Regions from separate parts of the Homo sapiens genome. Here region 1 is linked to region 2. Evidence: fine-mapped QTL for protein levels in blood plasma. Region 2 holds a variant in brackets. A gene starts in the other region. All regions are shown on their forward strands.

Evidence for each region. A credible set is the group of variants that fine-mapping cannot tell apart. PIP is the chance, under the fine-mapping model, that this variant and not a neighbour inherited with it causes the effect. The UK Biobank Pharma Proteomics Project read protein levels with antibody pairs (Olink). The fine-mapping took linkage between variants from a reference panel, not from the people measured, so its PIPs are less certain.
Region 1: CXCL14 starts here. The variant in region 2 is the best candidate, but not a certain one, in a credible set for the plasma level of the CXCL14 protein (UK Biobank, PIP 0.61).

Annotation. Positions count from the first base shown.
Region 1 is chr5:135,574,874-135,590,023 of GRCh38, forward strand. It overlaps CXCL14 (C-X-C motif chemokine ligand 14), which reads right to left and starts at 4,118. Exons shown (of 4, transcript NM_004887.5): 1 at 3,842-4,118; 2 at 3,561-3,666. The coding sequence starts at 3,905. It also overlaps a transcript of SLC25A48 not described here. RefSeq lists an enhancer at 9,870-10,371.
Region 2 is chr1:19,975,341-19,983,340 of GRCh38, forward strand. PLA2G2A (phospholipase A2 group IIA) reads right to left here and starts at 4,278. Exons shown (of 5, transcript NM_001395463.1): 1 at 4,240-4,278; 2 at 3,394-3,539; 3 at 3,040-3,184; 4 at 2,675-2,781; 5 at 95-503. The coding sequence starts at 3,433. The coding sequence ends at 361. RefSeq lists an enhancer at 2,922-3,421. The variant G/A (reference allele first, on the strand shown) is at 3,093.

The sequences.
Region 1 (15,150 bases), not on the chromosome of region 2:
ATTCTCTGACTCCATGTTAGGGCCTAACCCTGTATGTAGTGAGCAGCCCTCACTTTTCCCCTGGGAGTCCTGAGAGTCTGGGATGGTCTCTCCCACCCCCAACCTCATGCAGTGTGTTGTCTCCAGGGCTCAGGCCTCTTTTGGGGAACAAAGGTCAGAGGACTCCCAGCCTCTCTGAGCCTGGGATCAGGAGGTGGAGAAAGCTAATGCCAGCAAGGTGCACATGCCAAAACCTCTGTCCTTGGATTTGAGGAGCTCATGGCAAGGCTCAGACATGCCCCGCAGACACTCTGATTTCTGTCTCCTCAACCCCAGTTCCCTCTGACCCACCACAGATTGTCCCAGGGCTGGGCATCTCCTGATCCTGAGGCAAAGTCTTGTTGGCCTTGTGGGAGGTCCCAGGTATCTCACCCCTAAGCAGAAGAGTAAGACCTCTCTTCTGCACAGCCTGAAGATCTCAGGCCTCTATCAGCCAATGTCCCAACACCCAGCAGAAGCCTAGCCATGTGGTAGAGAAGCAGGTGTTGTGCAGACTGTAAGGGCCTGGGACTGAATCTCAAATTTGGCTGTGGGACCTTGGGTAACCTCTCTGAATCCAGTTTGGCCATCTGTAAAATGGGTATAATAATAGGACTATCTCACAGGGTTATTGGGATGATTAAAAGATACAATCTTTAGAAAGTACCCAGGACCTGGTAGATGCACAATTAACAGTTACTGTTACTAGTCATTGGTCATGGAAGATGAAGTGGCCAAGGGGAAAGAGTAGCCTTGCTGTGGGGGCTCCAGCCTGGAGGGCGAGGCAAGCCTGCTGCTCAGAACTTCTGAGCACCTCTAGGCCACAGGCATGACAGGAGTTGTGGGGAATAAGAGACCACCTAGGGTATTTGGAAAAGTGCAAGGTGAGAGGTGAGGATGCCACTTCTTGAGGGGTCACAGCCATGCAAGCCATGATGGTAGACTGGGGTGCTGGAATGGGCTTGGAGGGCAAAGGGGGAGACTGGAAGTGAGAGTGGAAAGAGTGAGAAGAGAGGGACAGAGGTCAGCTAGTTCCCCACTGTTAACCAAATGGAAAATGTCATGGCTTATATGGGCTAAGTTCTAGAAGGGACAGGATTCCCATTACTTCAGTCTCCCAGTTGATGGGGAAAGAAAATCGGATCTTGCCACCAGAATGGGGGCATAATGTTCCTAGGCAACCTGTTCTCTTCCCTTCTCCGTGCTCTGGGTTTCTGGGGTCCCTGCTAGGGCCTAAGCTCCTTGGGGCAGGGGCGGGTCTTCCTGCTGATGCCAGGTGATGGTGCCTGCCTTGACTGGACTCCTCTGTGACTCCGGGTCATTCCTCTAGCCTTGAGCACAGGCCAGGCTTCAGAGTGAACTCTGGTTGTCTCTCTCCCCCACTGTGCCCAGTCACCCTGCAGGAATTTAGCAAATGCTTTTCTCTTTCTGCCTACAAGGCTGCTTTAGCATTCTGAAGGAAAGGACGTGGTAATGCCTGATAAAAACCCTTTCTCAGTTAGGTCAGTGTGCAGGCTGTGCATCCCAAATCCTGAAGGTCAGGGAGAGCAGGAAGGGAGAGCAGGAAGGGTCACTCAGCCCTCTCACTACAGTGCTCAAATGCCACGTCATAATACTGGGATTATGAAAATCGGTTGTGGAGTGCAGACATAGGGATTTGTGACTCCAGCAACTATCAGAAATTCTGAGTCCTGTGACCCTCTCCTCCACAGTTCTGGCGGTGGGGGTAAGGGTTTTGGTGAGAGCTCCATGGACCTATGACACAAATTGCTCTTTCTAGAATTCGGACTCTCCTGGATCCTTCTGGGTGCAAGGACTCCCACTTGCAAAGCGGACCTCTCCCCCCGCCCCTACTCCTGCCCCCACCCCCAGCCTCAGCAGAGATTTCTGGGTGACTCAGGGTAAGCTGGAAAATTTGCTTTTGTTCAGCCTTTGTGGCTGAAAACCTGCTTTGCAAAAGTGCTGGCCCCTCATCTGATTTGGAGAGTTTTAGGATTGTGGAGGGGGAGAGGAGCCCCCAGCCCTCAGGGATGGAGTGGGAGGCCCTAGGGGGTGGGTTAGAGGTTTAGTAGAGGGTGATTGGATTGTGTGCTGATCTCCTGAGGCCCCTGCACGTTTCTACAAGGCTCCGTAAAGCCTTTCTCACACTTGCCTAGCTATAGTTTTTCTCTATATGTGGAAAAGTTTAGCCAGGAAAAGAGCAAGCCTATTTACTGAGGGCTCTGTCCTTTTTAGGTATCACTGCATCCTTTACCCTGCTTTCTTCCCCTGCAAGGTCTCAGAAACTTGTTTGGTTAATAGAGTGGTTTTCAGCTCTTAGACGAGTGAGATTTAACTTGGAATTCCCCTGTCATTCTTAGCCCCCAAACTGGAAGCCCTGAGGAGCTTGGAGCTCCTTTCCCAGCTCATTTGACACTTGGCCCCCACCCAAAAGGATTTTTGGGTATTTTCTTTGAATTTGGTCTGCAAGGCAAGGGGTAGGGACAAGCAAGTTAATTTAGGTGTCTGTGAAGGAAGGCAGTGGGGTCAGCTCAGTTCCAGTGGATTTCTGAATTCCCCTAATTTCAGCCTGACAGTGTAGCCCCTAGACGGGGATGGGGGGTGCTGGGTAGGGGTGTGCACTGCTTTCGCAGACACTGTGAAGGCCTTTGCGCCGGTGGGGGCCAGCTGGTGGAGGGCACTTGCCCAGACTGAGAATAAAGTGCGTCCTGTTTCTGGGGGAGGGGAAGAGGGGCCAATGGTCTGTGGCAAATATTTGGTAGCCGCTTTGCCAAGGGCTCCCTTCCTGGCCAAGAGCATATTGATGAGGAGGCAGCGGTGCTGGCCTCAAGTGGTTAATTGGGAAGGCGGAGGAGCAAGAAACTAAGTGTTCTCTCACTCTGCCCCAGTTTTTCCAACATTCCCCACATCCCCACCAAGCAGGGCTCCAGCCATGTGGCACATTAACCCCAGCAGAGCACTTTCTGCAGTACTGCTCCGTATTGGGGACCCACAAGGAGTACAGTCGGTGAGGGAAGCTCGTGGAGCGTTCTCAAAATAAAATCTCTAGGAGCCAAAAACTTGCGGTCCACTTGTCTCTGACTGGAACAAGGCTCTGAAGGAGACTCAGGATTTAAGATAGTGTTTGCATTAGTCCTCTATCCAGTGACAGGAAGGCAGCACGCCTCACAGTTTGGGTGTGAGTGTGTTTTAAGTGATTTCAGTCTAGGTTTTCTGAGTTGGCACAAGGGAACCCTTTAACCCTTGATGGCCCTAGCAGAGTGGGTGGCCCATGGTACAAATAGGGAGACTGCTCATTTGAATCCTAGCAAGGGTGAACTTGGAGGCGCTGTTCCGGAGCGGGACAGTGACCCCCCTTCCCGACTGTCTTCCAGAGTGTCTCGCCAGCGTCCTAAGGACTCTCTGGGCAATTACAAAGGCTTTTCCAGGGCCTTGACAAAGTCGGAGAGAAATGTTTGTTAGCCCGACCCAGGCCCAGGCTGTGCCCTGGCATTGGGTTGACAGCAGTGCGCACCCCCTCAAGGTGAGGAGCGAGAACTCACATAACCATCTTCTCCTCGCAGTGCGGGTACTTTGGCTTCATTTCCAGCTTCTTCACGTCGCTGTAGCGGATCTTGGGTCCCTTCCGGGAGCACTTGCATTTGGACCCTGCGAGCGAGCGCGGGGCAACGGCTTAGTTGCTAGGCGGTCTCCTGCCCCTCGACCACCTTGGTGCCCACCCAGACCACCCCCCGCGGGATCCCAGGATGCCTAGAAATTGGCGCTTGGGTTCCCCAGGACAGGACAAGACGAGACGGCGACAAGGGGAGCTCCCCGCACTCACCGTCCACACGCGCGGTGTACAGCGCCAGCAGCAGCAGGAGCAGCGCGGCCGCCAGGAGCCTCATGCTGACCGGAGGGGCGCGGCGTGGGAGCAGGGACATGGGGAGGGCGCTGGCCCGTCGGAGCGGCGGCCCGGAGACGCCACCCAGCTCTGCTCGGCTTTCTCTGCCCGGGGCGCGCCTTCCGGCTCTGCTGGCTCCGGCTGCGCCGTCGGTGGATGCCCAGGGCTGTCTGTGGCCGTGCGCTGCGCTCTGCGCTTGTCTCCGCGCTCTCTCCACAGCCTCCCTCCGCCCGCCCTGGCCTCTTTTAAATCCGCTCCTGCCCTCGCAGCGAGCGAGCTCATTAATATGCAGAACCACTCGGTGACTCACTGAGATTTCTCAATGTGGTGAGGGGAGGAGACCTTCCCAGCCCGCCCGTCGCCCGCCCCGGGAAAGGACCCGCTATCGCAGCGGCGCACACCCGGAGCCACGCGCGCACACGCACACACACATCCGCTACCCTCTCGCTCACACAACACGCCGCCTTCGCACACTTGCACACCCATACCACAGCGCGCACACATTTCCAGCGTCCCGCTCTGCCTTTGGGGAGCCCAGACGGTGGAGAGGCTGCTGAAGGGCACTGCTTTTCTGAATCGTGTGGTTCTCTCTCTGGCCCGGCAGGCCAGCTTTTCCGAGCCGGCGGGAGACCCAGGCCCAGGGCTCAGATCCTCAAAGACCTGAAAGGGTTTTGGAGCAGGTGCCAAGTGTGAGTGCCTGCAGGCCTGACCCCCAAGGGCCCCTGCTGGGCCAGAACACAAGGCCAGTTCTGGACAGGGGCTTGTCATAGACTGTCCAGCAGCAAAGTCATTGACTGTGATCACTGGAACTGACTCAAAGAGGGTATGTGTGTGTATGCGGGGGTGGGGACGGGTATTGGGGAGGAGTTTTGGTGACTCCCAAAGGAAAGCTCCTTAAAGTGGGTCAGTGGCCTGGTGGCTGTGTGAGTGTCTGGGTGGTGGGGAGAACCAGGAGGAGTCCTCACTCTCACACTACTCTCCAAAGCCAGGTAGAGAGCCCTAGTGGAGAGCGATGACAGTGGTAACCATCTGGATGAAGGCCTTCCCATGTTCTAGACATTGTGCCAGAATGCGAGGTATAGTGGTGTGAGCCCAGCCATAGTGGCAGAAATTCCCTCCTCACTACTTTCCAGCACAAGTGACTTTACCGCTCTCAGCTTTTGTTTCATCATCTGTAAAGTGCAGATCATCACAGTGTTTCTGATAGGGTGGCTGTGAGAACTATAGAAATCATACATGTTGTCAGTACCCAGGAAATGTTACTTATTGGCACCATCGTTTTATGTCTAATTTATCTATTACTTTGATTCTTACCAATTGGTACTTTTCTTCCAAGTTGGTACTTTTAATTTCTTTATTTGACAGGTGTGGAAACATGCTCTGAGAGAAGAAATAACTTGTCCAAGGTCACAGAGCTAGGAAGCAGGTGACTAGGCCAGGAGGGTCCTCAGTATATACGGCTGCAGAACTGGGACTCCTGTCCCTGGACCACTCTGTTGCTTTGAGGCCTGTCTGCCCTTCACTTCTTGCTGCCTTGAGAGACCCAGAGACAGGAGGTGGATCATCTCAAGCTCTTGGAGTCCCTGGGCTTGGCTGTCAGGAGAGAGCTCACCCAGCTCTATGCCATCAGCCTGGCAGTTCCCTGGAGGCAAAAATGCCCAGAGGGCTTCTGGATGATGGGGACAGTCTGCTGAAGGGTGCAATGGGAAGAATCTGTGTCGTCTCTTCCCAACTGGAGAGCCCTTGCTGCTTCAAGAAGAAGCTGAGCCATGAAAAGCAAGCAGCGCCTATGCGTGCTGTTGTGCCTATACCTAAAGCAAAGCCAATAGCTGGACATTTGCATTTATGCATGAGATGAGTATGAGGGAGTGACTTTTGGCATTTATGTTAGTTTTTAACTCTAAAAATAATTTTTTAAAATATAGAAACAACACGTTTGCCCAGAAAAATCAGAAAACCCAAGCAGAAGAAAACTAACATTTTCACGCAAGTAAAATCTTGGGTGAAATCTTCCCAAAGCATCCTCTTTTTGCTTTGTGTGCACATGTACACATGGGATCAGGCTGCATGTAGTCTTTAATAACCTGCTTGCTATACCTATTAGCATATTGTGAACATCGCTCCATGTGGCTAGCCTTGCTACAACAATAGCTCCCTTAATGGTTTCATCTGAGGCCGGGTAGTATAATGGCTAAGAGGCTGGTGTCTGGAGTCAAATTGCCTGAGTATGCATCCTAGGGACTAGCTGTGTGACTTTGGGCAAATACCTTAACTCTATTTGGTATTGGTTTCCTCATCTGTGAGATGGAGATGATAATAATATGTACAGCATAGGCAGAATTAAATGAGATAGTGCATGTAATGCTTTTAATGTGGTCCCCAACACAGAGTAAGTGTTTGATATGTGCTGACCATTGCGGTTATCATGATTTTAGCTGCAGAGTATTCCGTCATACAGATGTACCAGAATTAATTTGACTACTCCTTGCTGGACATTTGGATTGTTTTCAACCTTACCCTCTTACAACCAATGCTGTTTGACAAATATTCTTGTAGCTCCATTTTGGGGTAGGTTTTAATACATTGGATCAGCCCTCAGAAATAGAATCATGGGGCCATGGCACATGCCCATTTTAAGACTTTTCATAGAAATTGCCAATTGCTTTCCAAAAAAATATATTTTATGCTGCAAAGGAATTTCTTAAATACCAAGCTTTCCTAGAGCATGTAAAGTATTATTTTTTATTAACGATTTTATTTCTAACATGTTTGTTTCAAGAATATGTTGATTGATTAACTGGGATCTAACAACACCAGCGATCGTGGGCACTGAGTTTTCACAGGAAAAAGTAGTTGGCTCTAGAAATATGGACCAACGTTCCCCAGCTTCTTGGGCTGGACCAGAGGTCAGACGTCCCAGTGTTTTGTCCTCAGTTACACTCCTCAGTCTGTGTATGCAGATCTCTGGTTTGCAGAAGGCAGCCACTGTGCAAGCAGAGCTGAGCCCTTGTTTGTGTGAGTTCTTCTGGAGCCATGGTACAGGAGAGCATGAGGCCCCTGCTGCCAGCAGGTCTGTGGGGGATGCTGCCTAACTGGGTGAGGGAGGGGGCTTGGCCCCTGACACACCTTCAGGGCACAGACTGTCTAGTGAGCCCAAGCCGAGGGCCTCTGAGCAGGTGGGCATGTGTGAGGCCGTTCTTTGTACAGTGGCACTGTCTGCTTCAAGGAGGTCCCTGGGGTACAGTGAAGGACAGCACACATGCCTTGCCTGTGTGTGTGTATGCATGTGTGCAGATGTCAACACATTCATGGTCATACTGGATTCTACAGAAGAGGTAGACGTGAAGTGTGGGGGCACAGAGGAGGGAGGAAGTGGAAACAGGACATCACTCCTTGAGGGAGTGGAAATTTTGCTGAGACCCCAGGGATTTGCTTATTTCTTCTCTTTACATTTATTGAGCACCCACTGTGTCCCAGGCGTTGTACGAGGTGCTGGGGGTTTGAGGTGAGCCAAGGCAGCTGTGTGCCTGTCCCCAAGCAGCTCAGAGTCTAGTGGGGAAGGCAGACATTAGCTATAAACCACAGAGATCAGTGTGAAACTCCTGCAGAGGTCAGTGTCCTGGAGGGTGGTTGGTGCTAGGAGACTCATCAGGGGATCTGACAGGGTGACGAGGTGGGGACAAATTCCTGGAGGAAAGGGCCATTGAGTTAGATATGAAGGATGGAAAGGAATTAACCAGTGACCACAGGAGGGAGGCCACTCCTGGCCCTTCATGGTCCCTGCTGCTCACACAGTGATCTCCTGGGGGAAGTCCCTGCTCTGAACCCTTTACTGGCTCCCGATCTCATGCAGAGTGGAAGCCAAGTCCCCAGCAGTGCGCACCCAATCATGACCAGCACCTGCCATGCTCCCCACAGGCTGTGCTCCAGATACTCTGCCTTGTCTTACCTTCAAACATCCAAGCCTGTTCCCACCTCAGGGTCTTTGTGCTCACTGGCCCCTCCACCTGCAGTGCTCCTCCCCAGGGGCTGACAGGCAACCCTCTTCTCCTCAGTGAGCCTGGGCTCCAATATTCACCATCCAGTTCTAATCCCACGAGCATACCCCCAACAACAGTCCCTCTCTGTGTTGCCACCGATTTTAGTTTATTCATTGTATGTGCAGCAACCTCAAATTGTACATTTTCATATTTATTTGGGGGTGCATTGTGGATGATCTGTCTGTGTCTGTGGGTGTCTGTCTTGCTCATCCTCAGTATCTACAACAGTGATTGGCATGTAGCAGGGGTTCACTCCCTATCTGTGGAGTAAATAAAAACATGTTTCAGGCAACAGCTCAGCATGTGAGAGTACTGCTGAATCCAGGCTGCACAGGCTACAAGGTTGCATGTGAGAAAGTGTGTGTGCGTGTGTGTGTGTGTGTGTTTGCGTGTGTGTAGGGGTGGCCATGGGGAGTCCATATTCCCAGGGAAGCCAGTTCATCCTCAGGGCATTTGTTTTAGAGATGAAGTCTCTGGGAAGAGGAGGTGGTGATAACAGGAGTGTGACTTTCCAGGAAATCCCACAGGTGTCTGGGCACTACCTCCTTGGTCTGCTTAGAAAGGGGTCTTGACTGGTCAAGGCTGGTTTTCTGCCCTGGGAGCTGGGATCCAGGGCAATTCCTTCCCCCATTCTTTTAGTTCTTTTCGTGACTGACCTTCTTTTCAGAAGAGGAGTCCTTTTTACTTCCCTGGCAGGACAGGAATCCTAGAATTCAGCACTGGTAGAGGCTGAGGCCACAACTGGCCTTCATTGTACATATGAGGAAACTGAGGCCCAGCAATGGGGTTGACTGCATACAAGATCTCCCTGTGCATTAATGTTAGCCAGCCTCCTGTCTCTGTGTCCTGTACCTAGCTACTTAGGCCAGAGCAAGATCCTGGGCTCCAGTAACCTGTCTGGCCCCATCACCACTCATGACATGGTGGGTCACCCCAAAATACCTGCTTCCATTGTGTTGTGTGGCTGCTGGCTCTGAATCCAAGCCTGGCGGGTGCCTCTCCCTCTCCAGCTCCTCCCTCTGTCTGTTCACCTGCAGCCTGTGGAGTCTGGGCAGCCAGCTGCCTCCTCTGTGCAGCTTTCTTTCAGCTACAGCCCTGCATGCTGACCCCTTCCCTGGCCATGCTCTGGGGTGAAGGAAGTTGAAGGACCAAGGTTCCCAAGAACAACCTCTGGTTTTGTTCTTCACACTGCAAATATTTAGAGATCCTGAGTAACTTAAGCCCAGAGAAAATGATGTGGGGGACAGCCAGGCAGTATTGAATTAGGCTTAAAGCAGCCCCGAGGCAGAGTGTATGTAGGGGGGCTCTGTTACTCAGATGGGTCACAGGGGGCACTGCAAGATTCCCCTAAACATGGGAGAAAATGCTTGCAGCAAATATGACAAACCAACAAGTAGCATTTATTCCACCATCTATTCATCCAACAACACTCCCTTACAGGCAAGCATCTTTATTATATTAAGAACACATGCAAAGATATTTCCGAAGAGGGCCCTAACATATAAATGAGCAAAGGACATCAAAGGACAATTCAGGAGAAAAAGAAAGGCAATTAACCAATTCATCAAAGAACATGCATCCTCTTTGGCAATGAAGGAAAAGCACAGCAGTGCTGCAGGATCACGGCATTTTGGTTTTGGTCCCACTCAATGAGGAAATGTTTATTTTAAATAGCAACATCCAAAGCTGATAATGGTAAAGTGAGGAAGCATCACTTAAGCATCACTCATGGGACTATCAATTGGTACAAAATTTGGGGAAGTTATATTTATAGTATGGTATCCAGACTGTTTGAAGTAAACCATTTCATCTTATTAACCACTTCAGAAATCTGTTTAAAATTCTCATAATGGAGAAATACCACATGCAAAGCTAGTCCTTGTTAAAAATAAAGATTTAAACTAAATGCCCAACAATGGGGGATTAAGAAAACAATGAAAGCTCTAAATTTGTGGAGTAAATGCTTATGCAGTAAGTAGAAAAAACACAAGGTTGTGTAAACACTGTGATTATAAGTATGCAAAACAGTAACCTCTGTACAAAGGATGGCAAGACAGAGTTACAAACGTCATTCTCTTTGAGTGGCGAAATGTTGGGCATTGTTGTTGTAAAGCTTCTCTCCTTGCTTTCCAGTTTTTCAGAATGTTCTTGTTATAACAGCAACTCAGGAGCAGTTGATTCAGCGAGGGCTTGGGCAGCCTTCAGCCTCACTGAGCAGACGCTGGCGATGGGCGATGAGCACCTGTGCTGTGCAGGTGGCACTGCAGAGAGGCAGGTAGAGTTGTTGGTGGCTTGGGTGAGTCCCATGGTGAGGGTCTAGGCCCATCTTTAGAGCTGTCCCCCACTGCTTGGCACAGGGGAACAAGCAGCCCCTCCATCCGGCCTCACTTGTCCTCATTCTGCTCTGCCCCACCTCCTGCCTCTCTCACCAGCCCTGTTCCATGTTTGCAGCAGAGTCCTAGGCCTCTGTGCAGGCACCGCCAAGTCCTGTCTCCTTGGCTAGGCTGTTTGCTTTCGTTTGCCTTCCTGAAACTGCGAAGATGTCATTTTACAGGGAAGCCCTCCTTGACTGCACACATCTGCCTGACTCCCGTCCTAGCCCCAGGGTAGGAGAGGCACCTGCTGTCCGCGTGGCTCGTAGACCTTGTTGTCTCCAGTGCCACTCCTCACACTTGTAAAGGCTCCTATGAGGTCTTCTTTCAGGTCCATGATCCTCTGAGGTTGCTCTGTGTCTTTCTTATTAATTCTAGTTCCCCAGCTTGAGCACAGGGCCGGGCACACAGTAGGTGCTCAATGAAGAAATGATTGAATGCAGGATGAACGAATGCAGGATGAATGAATTAATGTGGATCACAGTTTATCACAGTCTAGTGTGTTACAGAGTCAGACTTCCTGGTCTAGAGTACTAGTCTATCACTCTGTGCTTCTGCTTCCTCATCTGTAAAAAGAAGATAATAATAATAATAATAATAAATAATCAGGCTGTGATAAGGATTAAATGAGCTGATATAGAACAAACATGTTGCACAGTATCTTGTCACATAGTAAGTGTTCCATAAATGTTCATTCTTGTTTTATGATTATTAAATCTCGTAGACTCACTCCCCTTATCTGTGGGTTGGCTTGGCTAATTTCTTTTGCTTTATATTTATGAAATGCTTATAGAATGCTTACTATGTCTCAAGGACTGTTCTAAGTGCTATACAAATATTAATTTATTTAATTTTCATAACCACACAAAGTAGGTTATCCCCATTTTACAGATGAGGAAACTGAGGAGAAGGTTAAGTATGTTGCCCAAAATAACTACCAAGTGGCAGAGCTGAGATTCAAACCCAAGCAATCTGACTCTGGAGTCCTGCTCTGCACGGCCATACGCTGCCTCCCAGGAGGAGGGTGGGGGGACGCTCCCTACCTTTTGCCCAGGTGTCACCCACTACCTTCCTGTCTGCATGCTGCTGCCACCTGGTCCTCAGTTCTTCTCCCTGGAGGGCATCCCAGAGTTCTCAACCAGCTAGGATTGTCAACTTTAACAAACAAAAAATACAAAATGCCCATGCAATATTTACGGCATACTTATACTCAAAATTATTCATTGTTTATACTGAAATTCAAATTTAACTTGTGGCCTGTATTTTAACTGGCAACCCTACATCCAGTACCAGAGGGTGGTAATGTGGTGGTCCAAGGAGTCTTCTGCAGTGATCTCAGACACAGACATGGAGCCTTCTGGGTCTGCCATGGGCGGAATGTGGGGAGAGAAAGGCTAGGCACACTGCTAAGCTCTCATAGGGCACAGTGGGCATTCGTGCTCTGATAGGGAAGCAGGCATTGAGGAGGATGGTTCAGGCAGAGACAACAGCTTAAACAACTGCTATGGGATGGGGAAGGTCAAGGAAACTGTAGGATGCTAACGGAGCCCTGTGTGTGTAGGGCAGGGATCTGGGCAGGGGAGGGAAGGGTGATTAGGCTGAATATGTAGATCAGCACCAAATTGTGCAGGGTCCTGGGCAGCTGAGGAGTTTGGGCTTCATCACCTGGATTATAAGAAGCCATTGGAGAATTTCAAGCAGGGTTGTGTGATTCGGTTTTGCCTTATGAGAAGATCTGTCTGGCTGCTGGACGAAAGAAGGATGGCAGAGAGGGAGATGGGAGGCAAGAGAAACCTTGGTTCAGGGAAGTTCTTGCCCAAAGGTCAGGGCATTGTATTTTTTTTGTTTTGTTTTGTTTTTTTGAGACAGGGTCTTGTTCTGTCACTCAGGTTGGAGTGCAGTGGTGTGATCTCAGCTCATTGCAACCTCTGCCTCCCAGGCGCAAGTGATCCTCCCACCTCAGCCTCCCAAGCAGCTGGGACTACAGGCACATGCCACTACCCTTGGCTAGTTTTTAAATTTTCTTGTAGAGACGGGGATCTCACTATGTTGCCCTGGCGTGTCTTGAATTTCTGAGCTCAAGCAATCTGCCCATCTAAGCTTCCCAAAATTCTGGAACTACAGGTGTGAGCCACCATGCCCTGTCTTTCATAAAAGTTTTTGTCTTCTTATTCCTGAAATTCTTTGCCTTCTGAAAAAATGTAATGCACAGATGGAAAAGAAAAAATGTTCTCAGTCTCGTTTGCTGTCAAGAGGGAGTGTTTGTGATATTGGTGTTTTTATTTTTACCAATTCTGTCAGTGTGGTCTCTAGCACAGCAGAAGGGAGGAAGTGATTGGGTCTGGGGTGAGAAGATTGTGACTAATTTGCTTTTAATCAGTCTCTGGCAGCTGATGGAGGAGAACAGGGTCCAAGGTGTTCCTCAGAGGATTTACCTGCCAGGTAAATACTAGCCTTCATGAATCTTCTATGAAGAAAACTTTTCAAGCAACCATCTGAGACATGTTGCAATTTTCTTTCTTAGCAACTAGTCATTGCCTCTGAACATGATCAGGTTCTTAACGGTGAGCGATTTAAGGCCATAAAAGAATTGTCATAAACAGCTCCCCAGAGCCAAGAGTGCGGCCCAGATTTTAAGCACATAATGGAATCATATCAAAAGCAAGGAGGGGCAGCAGGAACCATAAATCCTGGAAGTGCAAAATCTGTCCATTGTGAAACTTGTGCTGAAGGGAAACCAGATGTGGATGCTAGAGAGAGAGGGCAGGAGGGAAAGTGTGGTATGGGGACTCTGAGAACGGGCCCCTGTGTAAGGCTAGATGTCCTGCTGTGTGTTGGCGGAGGCCCGAATTCAAGAGGCTCAGAACCACGGAAAGCAGGGCGGGTTTGCTCCTGGTGTCGTGGCTGACGGTCCAGTGTCCAAGGAAGAAGGCAGAGGCCGGAGAATTAATGTTCTTGTAGCTACTGTTTCAGCTGGACTAACAGAAGTATTGTACAAGTTTTTCCTGAGTTTTTGTCTTTGAAGATGAAACATTTGGGGGCAGTTCTTTAAACATGTATTTGAGCTATCACAAAGAGACTAAATTTGTTTATCCTGTGGAGGAAAAAAAGCCACTAACACATGTGGAAATCCATTTGGATTGGGATGAAAAACATGATTATCCAAGTTGCCATCCTTGGCCTGAAATGGGGGGTTTATTTTATTCTGGTAAGCAAAATCCTCTATAAACACCAAGTTGAGCCCTTGCTGAGTGCCTGCTCTGTGCCGGGGTTGCAGGGCTGCGGGGGCTGCGGGCCAGAGGCTCGGCAGGATGTCTGCAGGCCAGAGAGGCCCTTGCCAGCAGGCTGAGAGAATACTTCAAATGAGTTACGGATGCGAGGATTCCAGATGGGGGGCTGTAAGGCAGTCCCATCCAGGTTGGGGATTGGGAATGCTTTCATGAAGCAGGTAGTGGAAATAGACCTTGAAGGATGAGGAAGACTGCTCAGGTAGAGAGGGGTGAGTGAAGGTGACCCGCAGGGACAGGGCAGCTGAGGTCCAGCCTGAGGTCAGAACACATGTGATGAGTCAGGGACTGGCTGGTTTGATGGGAGGTAGAGTATACACAGGGAGTGTGGGCAGCAAGAGGGTATTGCGGAGAGCCTTGAATGCTGCATCAGGAACTCATAATTAATTTGACTGGAAAATTGGATTTGGTGCCTAGGTCTGTTTGAGGCCATTTCAACTCCCATTTCACAAACAAAAAAACAAACAAACAAGCAAAAATAAGCAAAGAACCAAACAAATGATACCATTCTGAAGACAGTACAGCATCACTGAAGAGAAAAAGGGGCACATGGAACTTTCCATCCTTCCCAGAACCAGTCCAGCCTGTGCCCGTGCACAGAAACTTTCACATAATGACAGTCACACTGCATAATCCTGTGTACGCATCTTTCTTTGGGGCACACTGTTTCATAAACGCTGTATAATCCCCACTTTAAATGCCTAGGGAGGTTTAAAAGGTCCTGGGGTGAAATACAGATTTTATGAAATGTGAACAACTTCCAGCTAAATGATTTTAAATTTGGGGTTCTCAAAGAGTGTCTCTAGTTTATACTTGCAGTGGCTTGGGAAGCCCTTAGACCTTGGCTTCCCCATTTCCCTCAACCACATGCTCCCATAGTGCGACGAAAAGGGAACTGTGTCATGGTTGTCACAGTCTGCCTGGTCCCTGATAGGTGGCTGGGCTGACACCAGGCACTGGGCTCAGTCCTGTAGGGGCTCCAGGTTAATTTTCCAAGTCAATATGCTGAAGGGCCAAGGCCCTGAAATATCAGCTTGTCAAAGTTAGTTTCTAGTAACTATTGGTAACATTTACGGGCCTCTGTGTCTTGCTGAGTGTGCCCATTTTCAGTGTATTTGGTGGTTGATGCATTCATTCATACTTTGAATTTGGGATGTCCCATGTAGTATTGCAAAAAGGGAAGATTTTAAAGATGCATTTTAATTAATTAATTAATGTATTCATTTATTTATTTATTTTGAGGCGGAGTCTCACTCTGTCTCCCAGGCTGGAGTGCAGTGGCACGATCTTGGCTCACTGCAACCTCTGCCTCCTGGGTTCAAGCGATTCTCCTGCTTCAGCCTCCCGAGTAGCTGGGACTATAGGTGCCCACCACCATACCCAGGTAATTTTTTGTATTTTTAGTAGAAACAGGGTTTCACCAAGTTGCCCAATTGGGTCTTGAACACCTGACCTCAGGTGATCCACCCACCTCAGCCTCCCAAAGTGCTGGGATTACAGGCATAAGCCACAGTGCCTGAAGATGCATTTTAAATCCAGTCTATTGGTTT
Region 2 (8,000 bases):
TACACCAGACTCAGAGCCTGTATTTTTAACCCCTACCCCTGTTTGTTCTCATGCTAACAGTGCATAGGGCAATGCATACACACACACATATACATGATTTGCTAATTGCTTTATTCAGAAGAGACCCCCCGGAGTACAGCTTCTTTGGTTAAGCACGGAGTTGAGGTGGAGGAGAGCAGTAGAAGGCTGGAAATCTGCTGGATGTCTCATTCTGGGTGGGTATAGAAGGGCTCCTGCCTGGCCTCTAGGATGGGTGAGGGATGCTTTCTGCATGGCCAAGGAACTTGGTTAGGGTAGGGAGGGAGGGTATGAGAGAGGGAAATTCAGCACTGGGTGGAAGGTTTCCAGGGAAGAGGGGACTCAGCAACGAGGGGTGCTCCCTCTGCAGTGTTTATTGGAATAGTACTGGTACTTTTTATTGTAGGTCGTCTTGTTTCTAGCAAAACAGGTGGCAGCAGCCTTATCACACTCACACAGTTGACTTCTGCAGGAGTCCTGTTTTGCTGAAATCATAAGAAAATAAACACAAGATGGGAGTTTATTAATATTCAGTGGCTTCTTGTGGGAACCCTGGGGTAGAAGACACAGCCCTGTCCTCCAGAAGCTCCTAGTTGGAGACAAACACCTGCGCTCCAGATATTTCTGACCAATGGGGAGACAGAATTCTTGCCCTTGGGATGCTGGCCTCCAGCCTGGTGGAGACACAGCCAGGCACTGGGATACTTTCTCAAAGGCCTTCCTAACAGCCATAATCTCTTCCTCTTGCTAACAGATGTGTCCAGGAGGCAAAGCCCTAGCCTCGGGGGTCTGGGAATAGATTGTGATTGGTGTAAGCCAGGCAGGGTCATCCCTTTTTCCTTTGCAGTGATTGGTCTTTGTGTATCATGTAACCTTGTTCCAACCAATGAGCAACAAGGGGAAGTCTGCTGGGGGCTTCTGGGAACGATCTATTTCCTCCCTCCAAAAAGAGAGATGCCCAAAAGGAAAGCCTCTTCCATAGTATGAGGCCAGGAGGGTGGACCTGCAGCCTGTCTCTTGACATCCCAGGTGTAGACACTGGCCACGTGGCATAGCTGAAGGCCAGGAGAAGGCTGGATTCTTAATGACATGGCTGGAAAGCTGCCCCAAGCCTGGCACTGCACTCTTCCAGAATTCTAGTTATGCGACAGTCACATATCCCCATTATGCAAGCCACTGTCAGCTTGGCATCATGTGGCTTGTGACCTAACGCCTGCTGAAGATACATGCCTCTATGGAGAGGCCATGATGGGAGACATAATTTCTGATCTTAAAGGACTCAGGCCATGGGCAGGAGTCCACGCTTTTTCCAAATCCCACTCATGAGTCAGCTGTCTGGGGACACCAAGCAAAGCCTTCCAGTGCCACCCACCTCTCCTCCCCTTCAGGGCCAAACTTTCTCCAGAATGTTGTCTTTGCCTCCTGTCTTTATTTGCCTTCCCATCAGCCCCCACCTGGTCTAATCTGGCTTTGCCCTCCCGACTCCATGGAAACAGCTTCCCCTGAGTCCCTCATGCGTTTCTGCCTCAACATCCAGGGGAGCCTTGTTGGCCCTTTTCATGGAGGACTCCCTGTTCACTTGGCCCTTGCTAACCATTTCCTTACTGACTCCTTGACCTTCTCGCTCAGTTCCCCTTCTCCCTCTCTGTCCATCCCTTCTCTGTCTCCTTTCTGGGCCTTTAAACAGCAAATGAGTGATCACACCCACCTCTCAGGTCTCTGCTGCTGGCTTCTGAATCTGTGTCCCAGTCCTGAATTCTCCCCTGAGCTGCATTTGTATAGACAGCTGCCTGCTGGACCCCTCCCTGGGTGCTGGAGGCCCCTAAACTCAACATGCTGGAAATAGAACTGCTCCTCCCCACCCTCCACCATGACCTGCTCCCATGGTCTTTATCACAGTTGTGCCATCCATGCAGCCACATATCCATCCAACAACTCCCTCTCCCCATCCCTCCCAACTCAGTCACCAGTTCAGCTGATTCCATCTCAAATGCATCTTGATTTTTTCTCCACCTTTCCCATCCTGACCTCCATTGTTTTATGTCAAGATGTTACTCCCTCTTGCCTGCATGATGGCAATAGCTTTCTCTGCCCCCCTTCCACTTGTCTCCATCGACCCTGTCCCCACAGTGAGTCATCTAAAATGCAAATCTGACCCTGTAGCTCCTTTGCTTAATAGCATCCTATTGCTTTAGGGCAAAACCTAAATACAGCCCGGCCTGGAGGGCCGGATTGACCTAGCTCCTTCCTATGTCTCCAGCATCATGGCTCAGCACTGCTCCTCTTCCTCATGTTTCTGCTGGGCAGTACAGAATGGCTTACAGTGCCCTTTAGTGCCTTTGACCATGCTGTGTCCTCTTCTGGGAATGCTCCCTCCTCTTCCCTGACTCTCTGCACAGCCTTTCAGACTCAGCTTAGGGGTCACCCCTTCCAGGAGCCTTCCTCAAGCCTCAGGCTGTGTTAATGCCTTATCTGTTTGTTTACTTCCCACTGGAGTCTTTACTACATTGGATTTTCACTTTCCTGGCTTCCCACTCAACCGTGAGCTTCCTGAAGCAGGAACTGTGTCCCTCTGTGTCTATCTTTGGTGCCCAGCACAGTCCCCAGCACTGTCTAAACAAATGAGGGCCACTCGATGGTGAGGTAGGACTCTTACCACAGGTGATTCTGCTCCCCGAGTTGCTAAACTTGTAGCTCAGAAATTTGGTGCCACATCCACGTTTCTCCAGACGTTTGTAGCAACAGTCATGAGTGACACAGCAGCTGTGAGGAGACACCCTGTTGGGGCTCTTGTCCCACAGCTCCAGGAGGCCTGGTGCCTGTGGTCTCACCCCCTTGGACCCTGGGCAGAGACCCAGTGACTTTGCAACAGTCTAGAGCAGAAGTTCCAACATGCCGGCTGCTTTTCCAGCCAGGCCATCCTGAGACCTCTGCGCCCATCAGGAACCGGCACTGTCTTTGCAGCTCCCAGCCCTGCCTGGGCCAGAGTCTAGGAGGGTAGGGAGGGATAGGTGGCCTCACCGATCCGTTGCATCCTTGGGGGATCCTCTGCCACCCACGCCACAGTGGCAGCC[G/A]TAGAAGCCATAACTGAGTGCGGCTTCCTTTCCTGTCGTCAACTTGATCATTCTGTGGAAATTCACCAAATTCCCATGGGCCTGCAGTAGGCCTGGAAGGAAATTTGGGAGTTGTCTGGTGATGGGGCATGGGGTTCTGCGCCCTCCCTCTCTGCCCCTCTCTGCTACTCTCCTTCCTCCCAAATGGCTTCTTTTTTCCCCCTGAGAGAGGATCACTGCAATGGGAGAGAAAACTAAGGGACAAGAGTGCTTCCCTTCTGGGGCTGTCCCCCCATGCTCAGAGGTCAGGGTCAGCTCTTACCAAAGATCATGATCACTGCCAACAGTAGGAGGGTCTTCATGGTAAGAGTTCTTGGGTGACAAATGCAGATGGACTGGCCTAGCTCCTCTGCTGGGTGGTCTCAACTTCTGCCCCGGCCGTCGCTCCCCTGCTCCTCCTTGGTGGCTCTGAGACACACAGACATGCTCTCCCATCCAACCTAAGTCCAGGGTGACTTCCTCTGTCACACTCAGAGCACACAAGGAGTGCCCTCCAGCAATGCACACACACACACACACACACACACACAACCACCTCCTGACCCGTTCCCAGCTCTGCAGAATGGTTTCACACACATCAGGCCCTCAGACCTGTGGAGAACCCCATGATACACTAATGAGACCTCCCCTGTACCTCATCAGACTGAGAGTTCTTGGGAGGTTGGAACCAGGTTCCTCCCAACTACCTGGGAGGTTCCTGAGGTCAGAGGATGTGTCCCTCGCTAGACATAGCTTGCATATCCCCACACTGGATTCAAGGCTTGGAGTCTCCAAGGCACCCATGGAGGCTCGGCCTCAGTATTTTCCTCCAGAATGAAAGCATCAACCTCTCTCTTCTAGGCCTTCTAACCCCTTCCACATACACAAGTTCCCAAACACATACATGTTAACACACCTATGCCCACATACACACACTCTCGTACTTACCTGATAGTGCCAACATCCTCTCTTACACTACACTCACATACTCACTCAACACACTCATGCACACACACCCTCTCATACATATCAAATCATGCACATGCATGCACAACACAGCCACTCTCAAAGGCAGCGAATGAGCAGGAATTCTGCTCTTGACAGGACATCAGCTTCGCTGGCTCTTTACCTCTCAGAGGACTCCAGAGTTGTATCCCCAGGCCGTCTTGTTTGTTCTGCACTCCTGCTCCCCTTAAATAGCTGCTCCCTCTGGGAGGTTGGGGGTAGGTGAGGCACAAGGCTGGGGATGGGCGTGGTCAGTTGGTGGACTCAGGATTGGTCGCCCATACCCCTAGGTAATCCCTTTCCTTCCCCTCATCAGCTGGCAGGACAGAGTTGAGGATTGGGAAACCTTACGTGTCAGTAGCTGATGCCAAAACACATTTCAGGCAGTTTTGCAGTCTTTCCATGGAGTAAATTCCCATAACCAGCTCTGGGTGTGATCAACGGTCAGCCACCTCCCTGCAATCGCCTCTAAGGGGGGCAGAGACTGTCTGCTGTTGCAGGCTGTGGACTCATTTGCACACCCAAAGGGACTACCAATTGCTGAGCAAGGATTGCTCCCTTCTGCTCAATGTGGCATTTGGGAATAGAAAAGAGGGCTTTTAGTGGTACTCATTCATTCAGCCGCTCAATCATTCATTCACAGGAAGTATGTCCTGGGCCTCTACCATGTTCCAGCACCTGTGCAGGCCTCACGTGTGCACCCCACAGTCCACCAGGGAGAGAGTTTAATGGGGGTGGATTTCCCTTCCCACTAACTTGGGCCAGGGCCTCAACTTTCTCTTCTTATTCTTCTTTCTTCTTTTCCTCCACCCCTGTCTCATATGAGCTTCTAAACCTGGAAAAAGCCAGAGGCTATCCTTGAAGTTCCCACCAAAGCACTGCCTTCACTTTATTCCCCATCCTCACCTGTTTGGAGACAGGGCAGGTGAATGCTCCCTGGATCTGTTGCTCTTTTTCCTTCAGCCTTCGGGCTGACACTGACTCCAGCTTTAATTCATAAAGTAAATATCTTTTTCATTGCTCTCCAGCACATGCTAAGAATTTAGCTTCCACCGCCTTAAGTAAACACTCTGCGATACCAGTCCTAAAAAAGTCACTGTGGCAGGGGCTGTGGTGCTTGTGAACATTCCATCTGTTCCCTACACTCTAGAGCCCCTTGCAGGGATGGAGACCTAGGGCCCTGCTGCTGACTGGTAAAACATGAGCACTGGTATGAAGGGTCACTTCCAGGTTTCTCCAGCAAGGGGACTATGAGATGCAACTCCCCAGCCCTTCCCTGCCCCACTGGTAGAACCAGAAGATGAAAGCAATCTGGGGTGTAAGAATCATGGCACGGAAGACAGTTGTCCTAGAAAGTCCTGCAGCTCACAGGGGTCTTAGTGTGAGTGAGAAATAGACTTTTGTTGTATTAAGCTGATGATAATTGAGATGGGCAGTTGCTGGAGCATAACCTAATCTATCCCAAGAGCCATCAAACAGCTTTCCTCTCGAGAATACCATTTACCTCCAGTGCTCGACTGTGTAAGGGGTTGGACTGTGGTCCTCCTTCCTGCTCTCAGTTCCTGTGTTGGAGTCCCGGTACCTTAGAATGTGATCTTATTTAAAAATAGGGTCATTGCAGATATAATTAGTTAAGAGGAGATCACTAGGGCAGCTAGGATGGGCCCTAATCCAAGATGACAGATGTCATTACAAAAATGGGAAATTTGGAGACAGGCAGGCACACTGGGAGAAGGCCATACAAAGATGAAGGCAGAGATCAGGGTGAAGCTTCTACAAGCCAAGGAATGGCAAAGATTACCAGAAAACACTGGAAGCTAGGAGAGAGGGATGGAGCAGATTCTCCCTCACAGCCCTCAGAAGGAATCAACCCTGTTGGGCCCTTTGATTTCTGCCACTGGAACTGTTAGACAATAAAATGTCTGTTGTGTAAGCCACAAAGTACCTAATACAAAGCCGAAGCAAACTAACACAACCTCCAGGGATCTCTGTTGGCTTCCTTCACTCTTCTTATTCTGGGTTGCCAGTCCTATAGCAGTTGGCTTTATGGCCACGTCAGGGTTCAGAGGTCTCAACCCCCCGGGGTAGACCACTGCCTTTGTTAAACATTGCACTTTCGGAAACAGTAGTTCCTCCAATAGGCAGAACCGCCTCCCTCTCTGTATATCTGGATAGCCCTGGTCCAGGCTTCAGTTGAAAGAAATACTCCAACGCTCAAGGACTCTGGTGACGTCGGATAGAGCCTCTCCTTTTCCCATCATTTCAGGCTGTTTTACAGGAATTCAAAGTCCATGAATTGGCCTCTTGTTCATCTTCCATCCCAGACCTAATCCAAGCCCTTGGACTCAGTAAGCCAAACAGAAACCTCTACTTTCACAGGGCTTCCGCTTAAGCAGAAAGAGACAGACAATCAGCAAAAGACATACTAGTAAATGACATCATGTGATAGGTGGTGACACTGCAATGGGGAGAGAGGCAGTAGGTGACAGGGCAGGAGCACCGTCATCTCGGACAAACACCACCACTTTAAGTTCCAGCTCCCTTTCTAGCCTCATGCATTTCAAGGAAATCATTTCTCTTCTCACTACAAACAGCCAGAAAGAGTAGACAGTAAAACACAGATAAAACACAGATAAAACACAGATAAGACAGCTCGGGCAGAGAGGGAGGTGTTCGGAAAGTTTCTCTGGCAACTGCCAAACTTCACCCTCATAAAATGGGCCCCAGTAAAACAGTGAGCCTTAATAAGCACATTCTTTTCCCTTCAGGTGCACTAAGATAGGAAAGCTAAAAGCAGACTTGGGGAGTATGCCTGAGGCTGCAGAAAGATGTATGGGAACAGACACAGAAACTCTCCCTTCCAGATAGGCACAACAAAAAGACACAGAAGCAGTCCAAGCCTCTGTTAAACTCTCCCACCCTGAATCCTTAAAAACTCTTAGTCTGTAAGTGTGTGCCTCTGACCTAACTCAGACAGCTGCCCCTCTCTAAAATAAACCTGTCCTTGACTGCCAAGCCAGCTTTCATGTTTCTTTCCTCTTTCCTTAATTCTTACAGTAGGGATGGAGGAGGGGTATCTGGAGTAGGAGGATGGCAATTTTACATAAGATTGGAGTGCTCAAAGAGAGGTGCTTTGAGCTTAGTCAGTGCTCAGAACACTTTCCTTGCATTATTAATAACTAAAAGAATCAGCATATTGACAAGTTTTTTTCTTTTGCCAAATCAATATCTGCATAAGCAGGTTTTTTTTGTTGTTGTTGTTTTCGTTTTTTTTTTTTTTTTGAGACGGAGTCTCGCTTTGTCGCCAGGCTGGAGTGCAGTTGTGAGATCTCGGCTCACTGCAACCTCCGCCTCCCAGGTTCAAGAGATTCTCCTGCCTCAGCCTCCGGAGTAGCTGGGACTACAGGCATGTGCCACCACGCCCAGCTAATTTTTGAATTTTTAGTAGAGGCGGGGTTTCACCATGTGGGCCAGGATGGTCTCGATCTCCTGACCTCATGATCTGCCCACCTGGGACTCCCAAAGTGCTGGGATTACAGGCGTGAGCCACCAAGCCTGGCCAGCAGTTGTTTTTAATTGCAGGATTACGGTTGAAATTTTTCTGCTACTGTTTCCTAATGTTCCTTTGTGAACATACATTAAAAATTTTTTTGAGATAAATTTTTACTTACAGAAAAAAATTGCAAAAGTGGAATTTTTACTTACAGAAAAAATGCCCTTCACCCAGGTTCCCTAATGTTAACATCTTCCATAGCCATTGTACAATCATGGAAACCAGGAAATTCATGTTATTAACTAATCTACAGGCATTATTTTAATTTCACCAGTTTTCCTACTCATGTCTTTTTTCTTCCAGGCTCTCACATTGCATGTAGTTTTCATATC